Regions from separate parts of the Homo sapiens genome. Here region 2 is reported to be linked to region 1. The links are microRNA targets in miRTarBase. Many come from high-throughput screens and were not tested one by one. Region 1 holds a microRNA gene; the other region holds the end of a gene's coding sequence.
The links. The annotated mature microRNA hsa-miR-6874-3p reads CAGUUCUGCUGUUCUGACUCUAG and lies in region 1 at 3,729-3,751, shown strand. An mRNA with a match to its seed (bases 2 to 7 or 8) in the 3' UTR can be bound and repressed. Matches are read on the target gene's strand: a 7mer-m8 pairs with bases 2 to 8, a 7mer-A1 pairs with bases 2 to 7 and ends in A, and an 8mer does both.

Region 2: the mRNA of NSD1 is a reported target of hsa-miR-6874-3p. Seed matches in the 3' UTR shown: 7mer-m8 at 5,500-5,506.

What each region holds. Positions count from the first base shown.
Region 1 is chr7:5,706,779-5,715,590 of GRCh38, reverse strand. MIR6874 (microRNA 6874) reads left to right here and starts at 3,681; the gene lies at 3,681-3,751. It overlaps RNF216 (ring finger protein 216), which reads left to right. Exons shown (of 17, transcript NM_207111.4): 11 at 401-538; 12 at 2,728-2,876; 13 at 3,752-3,830. RefSeq lists an enhancer at 6,885-6,954.
Region 2 is chr5:177,294,111-177,301,110 of GRCh38, reverse strand. NSD1 (nuclear receptor binding SET domain protein 1) reads right to left here. Exons shown (of 23, transcript NM_022455.5): 23 at 898-7,000. The coding sequence ends at 5,652. Among named protein-coding and RNA genes, the nearest start is that of RAB24, 6.1 kb to the left of the region's middle. RefSeq lists a silencer at 531-724 and enhancers at 632-741, 4,410-4,909, 4,910-5,411.

The DNA of each region.
Region 1 (8,812 bases):
TGACAAGAACAAAATTCAACTTTTGAAAGTTTTTTGGGTAACATCTCTCATACTCCTTATCCTTGCTGTTTATAATCACATTAGCATCTGAGTACAGATGTTCTAGTTCCCTTTGCACCATGGGATTGAATATGATAACTTTATATAAAGAATTACTCTAAAGAATACCAGAAAAAAAACACGAAAACCTCGCTGTTTTAGGTATGGATTAATACTGTGTTAGTATCTTGAGCTAGATTTATATAGCACGAAACAGCATATCATTGTTTTATGGCCCCTAAAATGGGTTGCTTTACCTCAGAATTTGTGTGGGGGGTGGCAGAGAGATGAGGATGGGAGACAAGGCTCCCCCTCTCCTTAAGTGCAGGACATTTCATGTGTGTTTCTTGACTGCCTGCAGGATGGCCAGCTGATTGAGTGTCGCTGCTGCTATGGGGAATTTCCATTCGAGGAGCTGACGCAGTGCGCAGATGCTCACTTGTTCTGCAAAGAGTGTCTCATCAGATATGCCCAAGAGGCAGTCTTTGGATCTGGAAAGGTAAGAACTGTGTAATATGTCCCATGTATATAGGACACATTCCTGGAGTCTAAGGAGACCATGTTGATAGATAAGTGTAAGTGCCTCTTTGAGGGTGAGGTGGAGTTCTGCTGGTATGCTTATGTGTACATTACCTGATGTATGTGATTATGTGGGTTCTCTGAGCACAGCAGATTTCTTTTCAGGGCACAGTAGAATTCTTCCACACTCCCACGCCTAGCCGCAGAGGAGCACCTCCTTCGTTCATCATCTTATTTGTATTCAGAGGGAAGGTTACCTCAGAAAGAGAGAACCTTGCAGCCTATTGGATTAAATATATATTAAAATAACATAACTTACTTTACACAAGATCATATTTCTCTCTCCAAAGTGAGTTTCTCTGGACACCAGCATAACAAACACAGTATGGGAATTTTACATTGTTTTACACCACCGAGTTTGTGGTATTTTGTTCCAGCAGCAATAGAAAACTAACACAGTGATTAAGAAGATGACTTTTTGCCCGGGTGGCTCACGCCTGTAATCCCAGCACTTTGGGAGGCCGAGGTAGGCGGATCACCTGAGGTCAGGAGTTCAAGACCAGCCTGACCAACATGGAGAAACCCCATCTCTACTAAAAATACAAGATTAGCCAGACCTGGTGGCGCATGCCTATAATCTCAGCTACTGGGGAGGCTGAGGCAGGAGAATTGGTTGAATCTGGGAGGCAGAGGTTGTGGTGAGTTGAGATCGTGCCATTGCACTCCAGCCTGGGCAACAAGAGTGAAACTCCATCTCTAAAAAAGAAAAATAGGCCAGGCGCTGTGGCTTATGCCTGTAATCCCAGCACTTTGGGAGGCTAAGTTGGGTGGATCACAAGATTAGGAGTTCGAGACTAGCCTGGCCAACATGGTGAAACCCCATCTCTGCTAAAAATACAAAAATTAGCCAGGTGTGGTGGTGGGTGCCTGTAATCCAGCTACTCGGGAGGCTTAGTGAGCTGAGATCGCACCACTGCACTCCAGCCTTGGTGACAGGGCGAGACTCTGTCTCAGAAAAATAAATAAATAAAGTTTATGTTTTTTCAAAGAGCGTGACCTTTGGAGTCAAGCAGAATGCATTGGGCCATGCCCCCATCAGCCATACTAGCCCTGTGATCTTGAGCAATTTAAATTCCTTAAGCCACTGTTTCTTCCTCTGTAAAATGGAAATAATCATAGCATTGTTTTGAAAGCTAAATGAGGTGATGAGTTTAATGAACTTATTGTTTGACACATGGTAAATGCCTCATAAATTTTAGCTAGTTATTTTTAAAATGTCGTCTTTTTCCATTTGTTTTCTTTGGTGTTTGTCTTTCATGTGGGAAGCATTCCTCATGTCTGACACTTTTTGTTCATGTTAAAGAGCTGTTTGAAAGCTGTGTGAGTAGTGGGGCTTATAGACCAGTGAGTTTGACTCTAGGTGCATAGGAGCCAGTTAGCTTTTATATTATGAACCTGAATGGCTCTGAAGTCTCTTACCTGGGGTGATTCAGTCTGCCTCCTGCCTGGTGGGTGTGAGCCCATTTTCCAACATTCTGAAACTGAGGGGGAGGAAAGGTCTGGAGAGTTCTCTGTTCATTATGCAGACTCCATTTCAGACTCTGACTTCAGGCCACCCCTCAGCTCTGCTCTCCTCTATGAGTGGTTTCCAGTCCAGAGCCGTGTGGTCCAGCTGTTCAGGAGATCTTCCTCATTTCTCTCAGAGTCAGCCAATTCCTTCTGAAGCGGGTAGGAACTAGAGGCTCCACCCATGTCCCTGTTTTCAGTTTATTACTTTGAGTCCCTGCCCCTCCCCACCACTCAGCTCTGCTTTCCAGAGGTTCTCCAGCTTTCTAATATCTGTAGAGGGGAACAACTTCTCCCCAGCATCTCCTTTTCAGACCCTAAGCTATGGGCTTCTGTGTGTGGTCTGCTAAGCCATTTGCCCTTCCGCCACTTTCAGTCTTTGTGGATTGTGATTTGGGCTAATAGAGGTCCTTTAGTGATATCAAAGATGTACTGGATTTTTGTTTCATGGTTTCCATGATTTAAGTGTGATTTCTCAGAGATGAACAGGCAGAGAGATCCTTGCTATGTTGTCTCAGGATCTATGTTTTTAACCACTGACGCTTTTTATTTTTCTATAAATGGTATTGATTTTTTTTTCTTTGCCTTTTCGCCTTTTTCTAGTTGGAGCTCAGCTGCATGGAAGGCAGCTGCACGTGTTCGTTCCCAACCAGTGAGCTGGAGAAGGTGCTCCCCCAGACCATCCTGTATAAGTACTATGAGCGAAAAGCCGAGGAGGAGGTTGCGGCAGCCTACGCCGACGAGCTTGTCAGGTTCGTTCTCAGGCAGAGCGTGCCATCTGCCAACTCTTCCCCATTGTGAAAACTACCTGGGCACTTGCATCAGATGATGAAAATTGTGTTTATCTTCCAGGTTTTTTGACATTTCTTGCTGAGAAATAAGATTATCAATAATTTTACTTATTTATTTTTATTTTTTACGCCTCAGAACCATTGAGTAACCAGTAATTCTATTAATGGAAAAATCTGCCCCTCAAACTTCTTTTTTTTTTTTTGAGGTGGATTCTCGCTCTGTCGCCCAGGCTGGAGTACAGTGGTGCAATCTTGGCTCACTACAACCTCCGCCTCCTGAGTTCAAGCAATTCTCATGCCTCAGCCTCCTGAGTAGCCTGGATTACAGGCGTGCACCACCACATTCCAGCTTATTTTTAGTAGAGACGAGGTTTTGCCATGTTGGCCAGGCTGGTCTCCAACTCCTGACCTCAAATGATCCACCCACCTCAGCCTCCCAAAGTGCTGGGACTACAGGCGTGAGCCACCGCGCCCAGACTGTAGCTCAAACTTCTGTCTACATATCTTGGCACCCCCAAATCTTCTGGCCCGTAGATACAATCATGGTGCCCTGGGCTGGAGGGAAATCGGTATATGCAAGGAGTTCTCATTAAGGTTGGGACGTGTTTATTGAGTGGTTTATATTCAGTCAGGACCTCATGTGGTGCTTATGTTTCCTGATAAGAGCCAGCACAAAGAAGAGGTTCAATCTGTGTTTTTAAGGAAAACTAAGGAGTATAAAGGGGATGTGAATGTCCAGCTCAAAACTCCATCTTCATATGAACAGCCACATGGAGCTGGAACCAGATCAGGCTTTAATGTTTGAAGTAATGTCAGTTCTGCTGTTCTGACTCTAGGTGCCCGTCCTGTAGCTTTCCGGCTCTGTTGGACAGTGATGTGAAGAGGTTCAGCTGTCCTAATCCTCACTGCCGAAAGGTAGGGAGGCACATTTTTTTCTAGATGTATATTGAATTATGGTATTATGGGCTGCCCTCATGGCCCAAATATCTGCTGTTTACCTGACTGCTGATGTATAAGAAGGATTTGAGTGCTTTCCTTTTCATAAGCAAATGAGGACGAGTACTTTGTGAGTAACGGTTGACATGGTTACTGAGATGGCAGCCACTCTTGCCACTCCAGTTACAAAGCTCTGGATTCCTATTTTATATCATCTTCTTTAGGACAGATACTATAATGTAAAGTGGGAAGTGTTTAGTTTTTCTTCCACTGTGTCAACATTTTTCTTGCTTGCTCTCTTCACCACCTGTGCTCAAATAGCCCCTGCTACCCCTCCCTCCCCACACACACACCTTTTGCCATTTTCAAAGTCCAAACGACGCTTCTTTGATTGAGGAACTGGGCATCTTAGTGGCATCTCCATCACATCTGGTAGGTTATTTATTTGACTGTTTCTCCTCATGAGAACTGACTATATTACGTGGGAGCAGAGCTGTCTAGGTGCATTACTGTTGCAGATCTTTGTTCCCTTTAACTTGGCGCCCTGTGAACTAAGAATGTCTTAAAATCTTTCAGCTATTTAGAAGCCACTTAGAGTTTTTAGTGAATATTAGCATCCACCTAGACAAATACGCTCTAAGCCATTTTTCTAAAATTGCATGATTAGAGTTGAACACTGCAATATCTTTGCCTTGGGGAGAGTAAAGAAATTAAGGTAGAGATTAGAAAAGGAAGAATAAACTAAACTAATGGATCAAAACTTTATTTCTTTTGTTTTCAGCATTAATATTTCTGGCCATTTTATATGTTCGCACCCCAGGCTGTTGCTATAACAATTGTCACAACAGTCGCTGGCATCTTGCAGCTCTTAAGAAAGCAGAGTGCTAGCGTGTCCCTTGTGTGCTTCCAGTGGGTCAGGTGTTGGACTGCCTGGGGAGGTGATGCCTACGCTAAGATGCAGCAGATAAGGAGGAAGTAGCCAAAGGATGGAAAGGGTGGGAGTGGAGTGGAGATGGAGAAATGTTCTAGGCCCCGGGAGTGGCAGCAATGTGGACGCTTACTGGTGCTAGGAGTGTGAAGGAGGCTCATAAGCTGAGTAGGGGCAGGCCCATGCAGCACACTGTCCTGAGGTGGGGAGAGATAAAATATAAGGAAAGTCTACTTGCCTATTGAGTAGTCCAGGTGAGAAATGTACAGCACTGCACAGCCTCTTGGGTCTTCATGAGTTGCTTAGAAGGAGCTGGGAACTACATTTCCTGGTAAGGTTTCAAAGAAGGTCTGCCAGTGAAAGTGCTTATGTACAATTGGGAAGGCCAAAGAAGAGGAGAGACCATTATTCTCTGAGGACGTTTTTTGTTTTTGTTTTTGTTTTTAAGTTTTGAGGCAGGGTCTCACTCTGTTGCCCAGGCTGGAGTGCAGTGGCACGATCTCAGCTCACTGCAACCTCCGCCTCCTGGCTTCAAGCAGTTCTCCTGCCTCAGCCTCCCAAGTAGCTGGGATCACAGGTATGCGCCACCACGCCTGACTGATTTTTATATTTTTAGTAGAGATGAGGTTTCACCATGTTGGCCAGGCTGGTCCTGAACTCCTGGCCTCCAGTGATCCGCCCACCTCAGCCTTCCAAAGTGCTGGTATTACAGGTGTAAGCCACCACCCCCAGCCTGAAGACATTTAAAAGCAGCTGCATTGGTTGCCCAGTGGCTCATGCCTGTAATCCCAGCACTTTGAGAGGCTGAGGCAGGAGGATCTCTTGAGACTAGGAGTCCGAGACCAGCCTGAGCAACATAGACCCTATCTCTACAAAAAAAATTTTAAAACTCAGCTAGGCATGGTGGTGTGTGCCCATAGTCCTAGCTACTTAAGAGACTGAGGCAGGACAATCAGTTGAGCCCAGGAGATTGAGGCTGCACTGAGCCATGATTGCGCCACTGCACTCTAGCCTGGACAACAGACTAAGACTCTGTCTTTAAAAGAAAAAAATTTAAAAAATAAAAGCCTGAGGGCACACATGAGTCTGGAACAGCATCTAGTGAGTATCAACTTGGCATGTTGGTGGGAGCTTCCCAGGGGCTCTTAAGATCCCAAATAGGAACACCACATATGTTTTTGTTTGTCTATGGGAGGAATATACATGGCCTGCTGAACTTGAAGGTAGCCATGTAGCTTCTTGTGGTCAGTGAAACATGTGAGTAGTTAGATCACTTGCAGAAAAAGCCGTAAAGGCATGTGGTGTGGGGTAGTGTCAAGATGACAGAAGAGAAAGCTCCAGACCCTCTTTTTCCCATAGAGAGAACAGTTCAACAACAACGGAAGGACCATTTCTCTCTGTGAGAAATCCAGAAACCAGTTGCATCAAAGGCTGGGGAATTTGTGACGCTGGCTCTCCAGAGTTCCTCCCCCTGGCACAGCACCATGTGATTGGGAGGAAGCTCCCAACTCCTGGCATCTTTCTGGGGAGGAAAAAGAAGACTGGAACATATATCTAATATTCAGACCTTTCAGGAGGCTGCTCAAGGGACTGGTTTCTGTCTTGTCTCACAGGAAAGGGCACCAGGTTGGGGACCTCTGAGGACAAATGGGATGGTGAAACTAGCACGTACTGACTCCTCATTGCCCTCTCCCTGCTCTTCTCGGGAGGGAAGGAGTTGGAGCATGAGTCCAGCATTCTAGGTTTTCTGGAGTCTGCCCAAGACTCTCGTTCCTGTCTCACTCGATGAAGCACTGATGGGACCTGGCATGGTCTAGGTCCCTGGGGGCTGCTGAGAACAAGAGAAAGCTGGGTGGTTTGTACTGCGCCAGAGGACCCACGGTACAGTAGGCAGAGTCCAGTGCACCTCGAAGGCTGCTTTTTGGGTCCAGGGGAAGAGTAGAGCATGTGTTCAGCATTTGGGCTTCTCAAGGGGCTGCCTGAGGGACTGGCTTCTGTCTCACCCAACTCACTGCTGGCAGAACCCAACCTACTCTAGATGCCTTGGAGCTGCTGAGGCCAAAAAAGAGCTGGGCAGCTTACAGCAGCTCCAGAGGGCCTGTGATACCTCAGACAGGCACCAGAAGAAGCAAGAGCTTGCAAGCTCCTGAAAAAAGGAAAACAAAAGCCTGAGCACTTATATTAGCCTACGATTTAGCAAAATCTTCTTGCAGGAAGCCTATTTTAGAATAAAGTATGAGTATCTCATGTAATTTATTGAGTACTGTACTGAAAGTGAAAAAGAGAATGATTGTATGGGTACTTGAATTACAGTTTCTACTGAATGTGTATCACTTTCACACCACAGTAAAGTCAAAAAGTGTAAAACCATTGTAAGTTGGAGACCATCTGTATATGCACCCGACATCAGTGCACCCAAATATGTGAAGCAAATATTGACAGCCGAAGGGAAAAATAACACAAAAATAGTAGGAGATTGCAATACCTCACTTTCAATCATTGTTAGCACCACCAGGCAGAAGATTAGTAAGGAAACAGCTGACTTGAACAACACTATAGACCTAACAGACACATACAAAATATTCTAGCCAACAGGCACAGAAAACACTTTTTCTCCTCTGTTGCGCATGGAACATTTTCCAGGATGGAGAATATTAGATCATAATACAGGTCTTAACAAATTTAAGATCAAAATCATACCAAGTATCTTTTCCAGCCACAAGGCGATACACTTAGAAATCACAAACAGCAAGAAAATTCACAAAGTATGAGAACTAAACACACTGTCCGGGCATGGTGGCTCCCACCTGTCATCCTGGCACTGTGGGAGGCCGAGGCAAGTGGATCACCTGAATTCTGGAGTTCGAGACCAGCCTGGCCAACATGGCAAAACTCTGTCTCTACTAAAAATACAAAAATTTAGCTGGGTGTGGTTGCGTGCGCCTGTAATCGCAGCTACTTGGGAGGCTGAGGCAGGAGAGAATCGCTTGAACCAGGGAGGTGGAGGTTGCGGTGAGCAGAGATTGTGCCGCTGTACTCCAGCCTGGGCGACAGAGTGAGACTCTGTCACAAAAAAAAAAAAAAAAAAAAAAACCACACACACACACTGAAAAGCTTTTTTTTACTAAGATCAGGAACAAGGCAAGGATATCACTGTCACCACTTCCATGCTATATAACACTGGAAGCCCTAGCTAGAGCTATTTGGCAGGAAAAAGCAAAAGCATCTATATCCGTGCAAGTTCACAGATAACATGATCTTATACATAGAAAAATCTGCAATTTCCACAAAAAAACTTGTTAGAATTAATATATTCAGTAAAGGTGCAGGATACAAAATTAGCACATAAAAATCAGTTGCGTTCCTGTACACTAACAAACACTCCAAAAAGAGAAATTAAGAAAATCTAATTTATAATACATCAAAAAAGTTGGAATACTTAGGAACAACTTAACCAAGGAGTGGGTAAAGACTTATACACTGAAAACTATAAAAAACTGCTGAAATAATTAAAGAAGACATAAATAAATGGAAAGACATCCCTAAAATGCATATGGAACCACAAAGGATCCCAAATATCCTAGACAGTCTTAAGAAAGAAGAACAAAGCTGGAAGCCTCACACTTCCTGACTTCAAAACTTATTACAAAGCTACAGTAATTTAAACAGGCAGACATGTAGACCAATGGAACATAATACAGTGCTCAGAAATAAATCCACACATTTATGATCAGCTGATCTTCAACAAGGGTGCAAAGAACACCCACCGGGGGAAAAGGTAGTCTCTGATTAATGGTGCTCTGTAAACTGAATATCCACATGCAAAAGAATGAACTTAGACGCTGATACCATATCTCATATCATAACACAAAAATCAACTCTTTAAATGGATTAAAGACTTAAGTGTAAGACCTGAAACTATAAAAACTAGAAGAAAACGTAGGTGGAAAGCTTCATGACATCAGTCTTGGCAATGATTTCCTGGGTATAATACCAAAAACAAGGTGACAAAAGCAAAAAACAGGCAAGTGAC
Region 2 (7,000 bases), not on the chromosome of region 1:
ACATCCTACAATGTGGTTTAATGGTAGGAAAGTCCTAAGTTCTGTAAGCCAGAAAGGTCTAATGGATCCAGATTTGGTTCCAATTCAGCTGCTAATTTAGAAAAGGGACTTAAATCCTCATCTTGAGTTTCTCATCTGTAAAATAAGGTGACTACTATGCAGCCCAAGGATTGTGAAGAAAGTGAAGAGTAACTCTAGTACTAAATGTTTTTCCCAATCTTCCCAAGCACTTTTTGCTGAAAGGGCAGGAAGTTCAGGACTAGGTCACAAAGGGAAGCAAACTCCCAAGTTTTCCCCAAAGAAGATCCAGATATTTCTGAGGAATCAGGTGTTAACTGTAAACAGGGCTGACACTTGCTGCTCAACCAGAAGGAAATTTATTGCAGCCCTTTCTGGTATGGAGGGTGTGGCCCCAGGCCAGGGGCTTTCCCTTAGTTTTATCCTTTGCCTCTGCTTTCCTGCCTTTATTTAGGCCTGGGCTGAGTCCTCTGCAGTGGCCAACACCTGCCTTGGAAAAATGTACAACTTAGCCAACATGGTCAGACTCACACTCAGAGAGTGCTTTGGTTCCACTTCCTTTTTAAAAACCAATTCCTCAAACTGCCCTTCCTTCATGAGTGATGGGGGCTTCCTGTGGAGGGAGACTGAAACTGAAACCAGCCACTCCCAACAGAGGGAGAAAGAGGCTTGGGCAGCCCTGTGGCTGCTGAGAGGAAACACACTATTCCCATGACGTGCTTGGAGGAAGGGCTTAGCTTCACAGTATCCCTGCGCCCCCCGCCCCCCACCTCGTACTATCTCTGGGGCTGGCTTCTGCTCTCACCCCAAACAATCCTCCCTCCTGTTAGACTACAACTCCCCACAGCCAATAAAACAAAACACAGGGCAAGGGCCATATATGAGTAAAGTTAAACTTTACTTTACAGTAAATTTTTTTTCTATATACAAAGAATTACAGTACATGTTTATGGGGACTCCTAACACAGGGCTCCCCTCTTTTTCACTAGGAGTTTCACTTACAGCTGACAATCTATGGGGGCGGGGGGGGGGGGGCGCGGCAAAAAAGCAATGATGGACCTTGGCTGATCCCCCCGACCCCTTTCTTAACAATATAGGTAGATGTCTATCGTCAGCTTGCCTCTTTGCCAAGACCTAGGAGGCGGCTCTGCCATGAGCTGCTGTGTGCTGCCCTCCCCACCTTCAGCACACTCATCTACACACACACAGGTAGCACCCACCTCGATGAGACCGCCTTGCTCTGGCCTGCCCCAACCCTGGAAGTTGAAAACATAGAACCATTTATTTCTGCTTCTACTCTCTGTGCCCATGTCTTGTCCACGAAACTTTGCTGAACTTCCAGGACCTTACACCTGAAGCCCCACAATAACCTGATGTTTTGAAAGCCATGGGAAAGCAGCTCTAGAGAAGGAACCACATAAGCAGAAACAGCGCATGTTAAACTCGAAACACTTCTTCCGAGGTTGTGGATTTCTAGTTTAATTCTTTCCACTTCCTTAGAAAATACTACCCTTAATCTTCATAAGCAGTAGAGGGGCTTCCATGAGTGGAAGAGGTAGAGAGGGGCAGAAGGGAGCTGAGGAAGACCCAACAACCAGAGCTCTCTAACAACCTGCTCCAGGCAGCGTGGACGGAGGCTATGGACAAGGTGGCCCCAGCCCTGAGAAACTCAATGGCCACCTTCACCTGGATATAGGATCTCTTCCACCTCTGGATTGCACTGGGCCACTCCAGGGTTGGGTGCAGGCTTCACTGAGGATCTTCCTTCTCCCCACTTTTAACAAAGCCTCAAACTTTTCTACATAAAATCTCCTCCCAAACAGGAACCCGGGTTTCTTGAGCTGCCAGTCCCTCAACCCTTGGCAGTGCTTATTTATACCGTGAAATTAGCACCATCATTACATTTTATTGTGTGTGTGTACAAAACAATGATCTATTCTTATTTCAATTTACACTATAGCAGCCTCTGGCCCTGTTGCACTGGCCCTAGGAAGCTCAGCTGAGAACTAACTGGCCATAGCCAATGACAGGCTCCCACAGCAACTACCAAGCAGTGACTTGGAATGTCTACACATGGAACTGCTCAAATGAAACTCAGCAAGAAAGGGGCTGGAGGCAGCTCCTTCTCTGCCATGATCTGAGAGAGGTTAGGACACTGGGCTCCTCTAACCTGGCTGATAAACCCCAAGAGGATGACAGTATCATTTAAAAAACCTTAGTAAAATCCACCTTATAGGGACTAAGGGTAAAACCTATCCAAGTTTCATGCTGTCCTCATTACTCCCTATGGGGGAATCTGTCAGGACTAAACTTTCTGCCATTCTGTTCTCATGAGGCAACATTAGAATTACAACCTGGGAGTCCGGCTCCAGTGAGCAGACAGTGCCGAGCCTGGGAAGGGATCAACAGGGTGTTTCATGCCCTGACCATAGTGTGGGGTGAAGGATGTAAAGAATAAAATAACTATTTTCATCAATGCTAAAGATTTGGTTCAGAAGAGGGTCAACACAGTGATTTAAGTCATCTCAAACTCAGTAACAGGGTAAAGCAGACATTTAAAAATGAGGATGTTTCTGTATCAATGACAGCTATTTTGCTATTAGACTGGGTTGGCTCCAGCAAGATAAGCAAATGAGGCTTTGAATGTAAATTTCAACATTTTTCATAATCTTTTTCTGACTTAGCAGGGCTAGATGTATTGGCTTTCTAGCTACCCATGGAGAATTTCAACTTTTGCCTTGTCCCTGGAAAAGGCCTCCTGGGGAGCTGGCTCCAAGGCAAACACTCTTGAGATCTCAATTTCCAAGCACATACCCAAATACCACCCTGCGTTAAGGACCAGAAGTTTTCTAAGATGAAAGATTTCCTTTTCACTCCAATTCACATCCCTTTGGAAAAGGGGTCTTATTACAAACTTCAGGGGACGTCCCACAGGGCTGGCAAGGCCACTCCCTCCCCACCTTCCTCCAAGAGTCACATTTCCCAACAGTTGTTGTGACTCTGCTTCTAATTGGATAGTGACTGCTTTCATGATTTTAACCATCTAGTATCACATGCTGCTACTGGTGGGCCCAATAGCTCAAATTTCTAGTTTCCAGTGGTTTTCTAGTTCCCATTCAATGGCCCTTGAAGGAAGCCCAGATGTCCATCCATTCAGATGAAGAACTGCTCCCCAAAATGGCTCAGAAGCTGTTTTCCCAGGCAGGTCTGGAACGAAGCCTCCAATGAATGGCGGAGAATGGAAAGAACCAAAATAAAACCACAAAGCAGCCAATCATGGCCCCTTTCCCTCACTCCCTCCTGTCCTGTGAGACATCTAGACTGCTGTCAAGTTGATTACCTACCAAAGCCTACTTTAGAGAAGCTACTTTAGAATCAAACTTCTCCACGGAAAATTTTTACATGGCCTGCACGCCCTCCCCCCGCCCCCCCCAAATTCACAGTTTATTTCATGAAACAAAGAGCTACGGTAATTTAACACACAACATAGTGAAAGGAGACTCTGACAGTGCAGTGCAGATACCTTTTTCTGATCACAACTACAGATGACTGGAGAGAAAAGGGCACAGGACTGGCACCAAGCAAACCCTACTCATATGACCTAAAAGATTAGGGAAAGGGACCTACTAGCTGCAGTTATATATTTATTATTCTCACACATGATAAATACTTAATATAATGAACTTTAATGTTCTCGGTGAATTTCTTTAAAAATATCTTTTTCATGGTTTAAAATTCTTTTAAAAGAAAATAAGATGCTTTACGTTTTCTCTTCCTTTTGAACAAAGAGCTTTTCCTCTTTGATGATGTGGGAAGAGAGAGAGGATGAAAGGGGAGAACTAGGCAGGTGGAATTCACAGAGGAGATTCCGAGGTCTCAGTGAAATGCAGGGATAGGCCCCTAAACTCAGGACAGCCCTGCCCAGCCTCGTCCCTCTGCCTGAGTTCAAGTGTCTCAACCTCAGAGACAGACTTTGGGAAATAAAAGCAGATTCTATTTTTAATCTTTAGATAAAGCGCAAATGCTTCTATAATAACTACTGTTCCCTCCGTGGAATTGATGGGAGTAACCTCAATAAGAACTTGAGGAAATTGGGACCAAATACAGAATCCTATTGAGAGCGTGAAAGCCATAACTAAGAGATAATGGCCAGGAGACGTTAGGGCCGGGGATGGCCTGCTGGCTAAGTTGGCAAAGCAGAGAGGTAAACATGTTGGTCTAAGGACAAAGGAGGGGTAGACAAGTGGGAGGAAACTAGCCAAACAGCACTTCCTGTTGGCAGTCTGTGAGCTGGGTGAATGGTAGGGCAGGGTAGCACCAACAGATTTCCCAGCCCTTGGGCCCCAGCTCAGGGCAGCAGTAACAGATAATCAGCAGTTAATAGGAGTCATCTCTTAGCCTGGACGTTGCTCTAAACACCACCTCTTGCCAGTCTTCAGGGAAGGGTTCTGGCTTGCCTTTGAGCTAAGTCAGCAGGCAGGTGCTCTCAATACAGAGCACAGCAATTCTCAGGGAGGCGAAGAAGAGGACTCCCTCCACTCAGGAGGGAAAAGGAATGGGGAAAAGAAATTTCCCATCAGGATCTGGTACTCTTCCTGAAGCTGGTGTGTCTAGCTCAGAGCTTGCCAGAGATTCCCTATGTCCACTGCCCGAGGCTCTGAAATCTGAAAGCACCTGAGTGTTTTAGGGAAATAGGGATGGGGTGGATTCATGTACAAAGAGAAAAATAGGTAGAAACAAAAGCAAAGAAAGAGAAGCTTGCCAAATGCCTTCTTCCACTGCTGGAAATCTACATTCGCACAGAGCCCGACTGCCCCTGACCACCTGCTCCTCCAAGGACTGATCTTGAGACTCTGCACAGCCCAGACAAAAGCAGCAGCGGCGACCCCACAGCCAACAGCCTTGCTGGCCTCAATGCAGCACCCTTGCATCTATAGAGGAGACCTCTGTGAGTGTGCGCGCATGCACACGCACCCATGCACACCGCAGCCAAGAGACACTTCCTCAACACAACCACTTCTGGTGCCACAAAGGACATTTCAAAATGAGTCTAAAGCCCCAGGGCCCCTCAGAACTTCCTGTTACTTCCTGGTCAAAGGTTCCTGAAAGCCTTGGAATCCAGGCTCACAGGGATGAGGCCTGTATCTCTCATCAGTGACTAGCACCCGGCCTAGAACACGTGAATGCTCAGGAAATCGCCACTGATTTGAAAGAACACCATTTCCTCCCAAGGGTTCCTAGGTGCCCTCAATGGGGCTCTGTCTGGTTGGGGAAATCGCTTTGAGAGCCCCTATACCTTCCAACCTGACCAGCGGAATTGAATTCCATACTTGACTCCAGAGTGGACTTTTTATTTCACGATGACCATGTGGAAAAGTTGGGGGAAAGAGACCCAAGTCTGTCTGTCTCCTTGGTTGGGGCCCACTGGATTTTCATACATGGTTCACACAACCATAAGCCCCCACTGGCTAATGTCACAAGAGTTCTGAGTGTTGGGATATGAGGAAAGAATAACAGTGGGAAAGTGTTCGGGGCAGATGTGTTTTTTTTTAAGGGGGAAAGAAAGAAAAGATTTCCCCTCCCCAAATGGTACCCTGGGGGCAGCTTGTTTGTTCATGTGACATTGATTGGTACTACTTCTGTTCTGATTCTGCACACTTGTGACTGGAAGGAGCCTGGTTAAGAGCTGGAAGTGTATTTTGCTCTGGTTTGGGGTCTTGCCCTCTTCCAAGAGACCAGCAAGTCTGTGCCAATGTCTGTGTGCTCCCAGCAGACCAGCAAGACTGTGCCAGTGTCTGTCCAGCCACTATGGGCCAGAGCCCTGCCCGTGATGAGGCTTTTCCCAGGGCCCAGGGACTTTGCTCTGTGGTTACCAACTTCTTTTCTTCAGTGGGGAGGGAGGCTGGGGCCTTCCCGAGAGACCTAAAAGATTGCCCACTCTTGGCGGCAAGTGCAGGTAGTTGCTGGCCTCCGACCATCTGCTTCGCCTGCTTCACCAGGCCCGGGGATTGGCTAAGAGGCCCTGGGGTCTGCTCAGCCCCTGCAGAAGCTCTTCCTGAGGCCTGAGTTGTTGGCTCATATAAAAAGGCCTTGGCAGGAGGCTGAGAAAGAAGTCTGGCCTGGGTGAGTGATTTAACAGCTTGCCAGGGGTCCTCTGAAGGGGCTGCTGCTTTCCCAGATGTCTGAAGAGGATCTGACACACAGCCTTTCTCAACAGCTCTCGGCATATGCCCCAGACCTTTGCTGGCAGGCCATGAACTTGACTCCAACACTGGCATCTTCTCATCAGCCTGTGGTGTGACCTGATGAGGTGAAGCTGCCCGCTCCTTCTGGCGAGGAGTTAGGTCTATGAGATCCATCACCAAAGCAGCTCTATTTTTTGACTGAGTATTCTGGTCCACAGGCCTCAGTGCTTTTTCTTTAGCTACAAGGGTCTGGACCACAGCTGATAGTACTTTCTCAGGAGGTGGGAGTCTCTGGGACAAAGAGGCATGGGGTTTGTCAGTAGGCCTGTCTGAAGTCTGGGGTTTGGGACTGCTAGTAATGAGCAGTCTGTCTGGCGGCGGAAGTCTCAGGCCAGTGGGAACTGAGGTTTTCTCCAGTGACTGGGGCCTTGGGCTGGCAGCACCTATGGATTTATCCAGCCTTGGGTCAGCCGTCCCCAGAGGTCTTTCCAGTGGTTGGGACCTGACTGAGGGTGAGGAGCTTGGGCTGGTCACTGGAGAGGGTTTGTCGCTTAGCTGGGGTCTTGGTCCTGCCACTGCTGGTGGCCTGTCCAGTGGCCTCTGGCTGGAAACCAAGGATTGGGATTTGGTCCCTGACCCAGCGAGGTCTCTGACCTTATCTAAAGGCTGGGGCCTGGAGTCAGTTCTCTCAAGAGGTCTTTCAGGTAGCAATGGCCTCTGACAAGTCCCTGCCAGAGCTTTTTTGGAGAGCGACAGCATCTGGTTGGTGTCAGCAGGAGGTTTATCTGACATTTTGG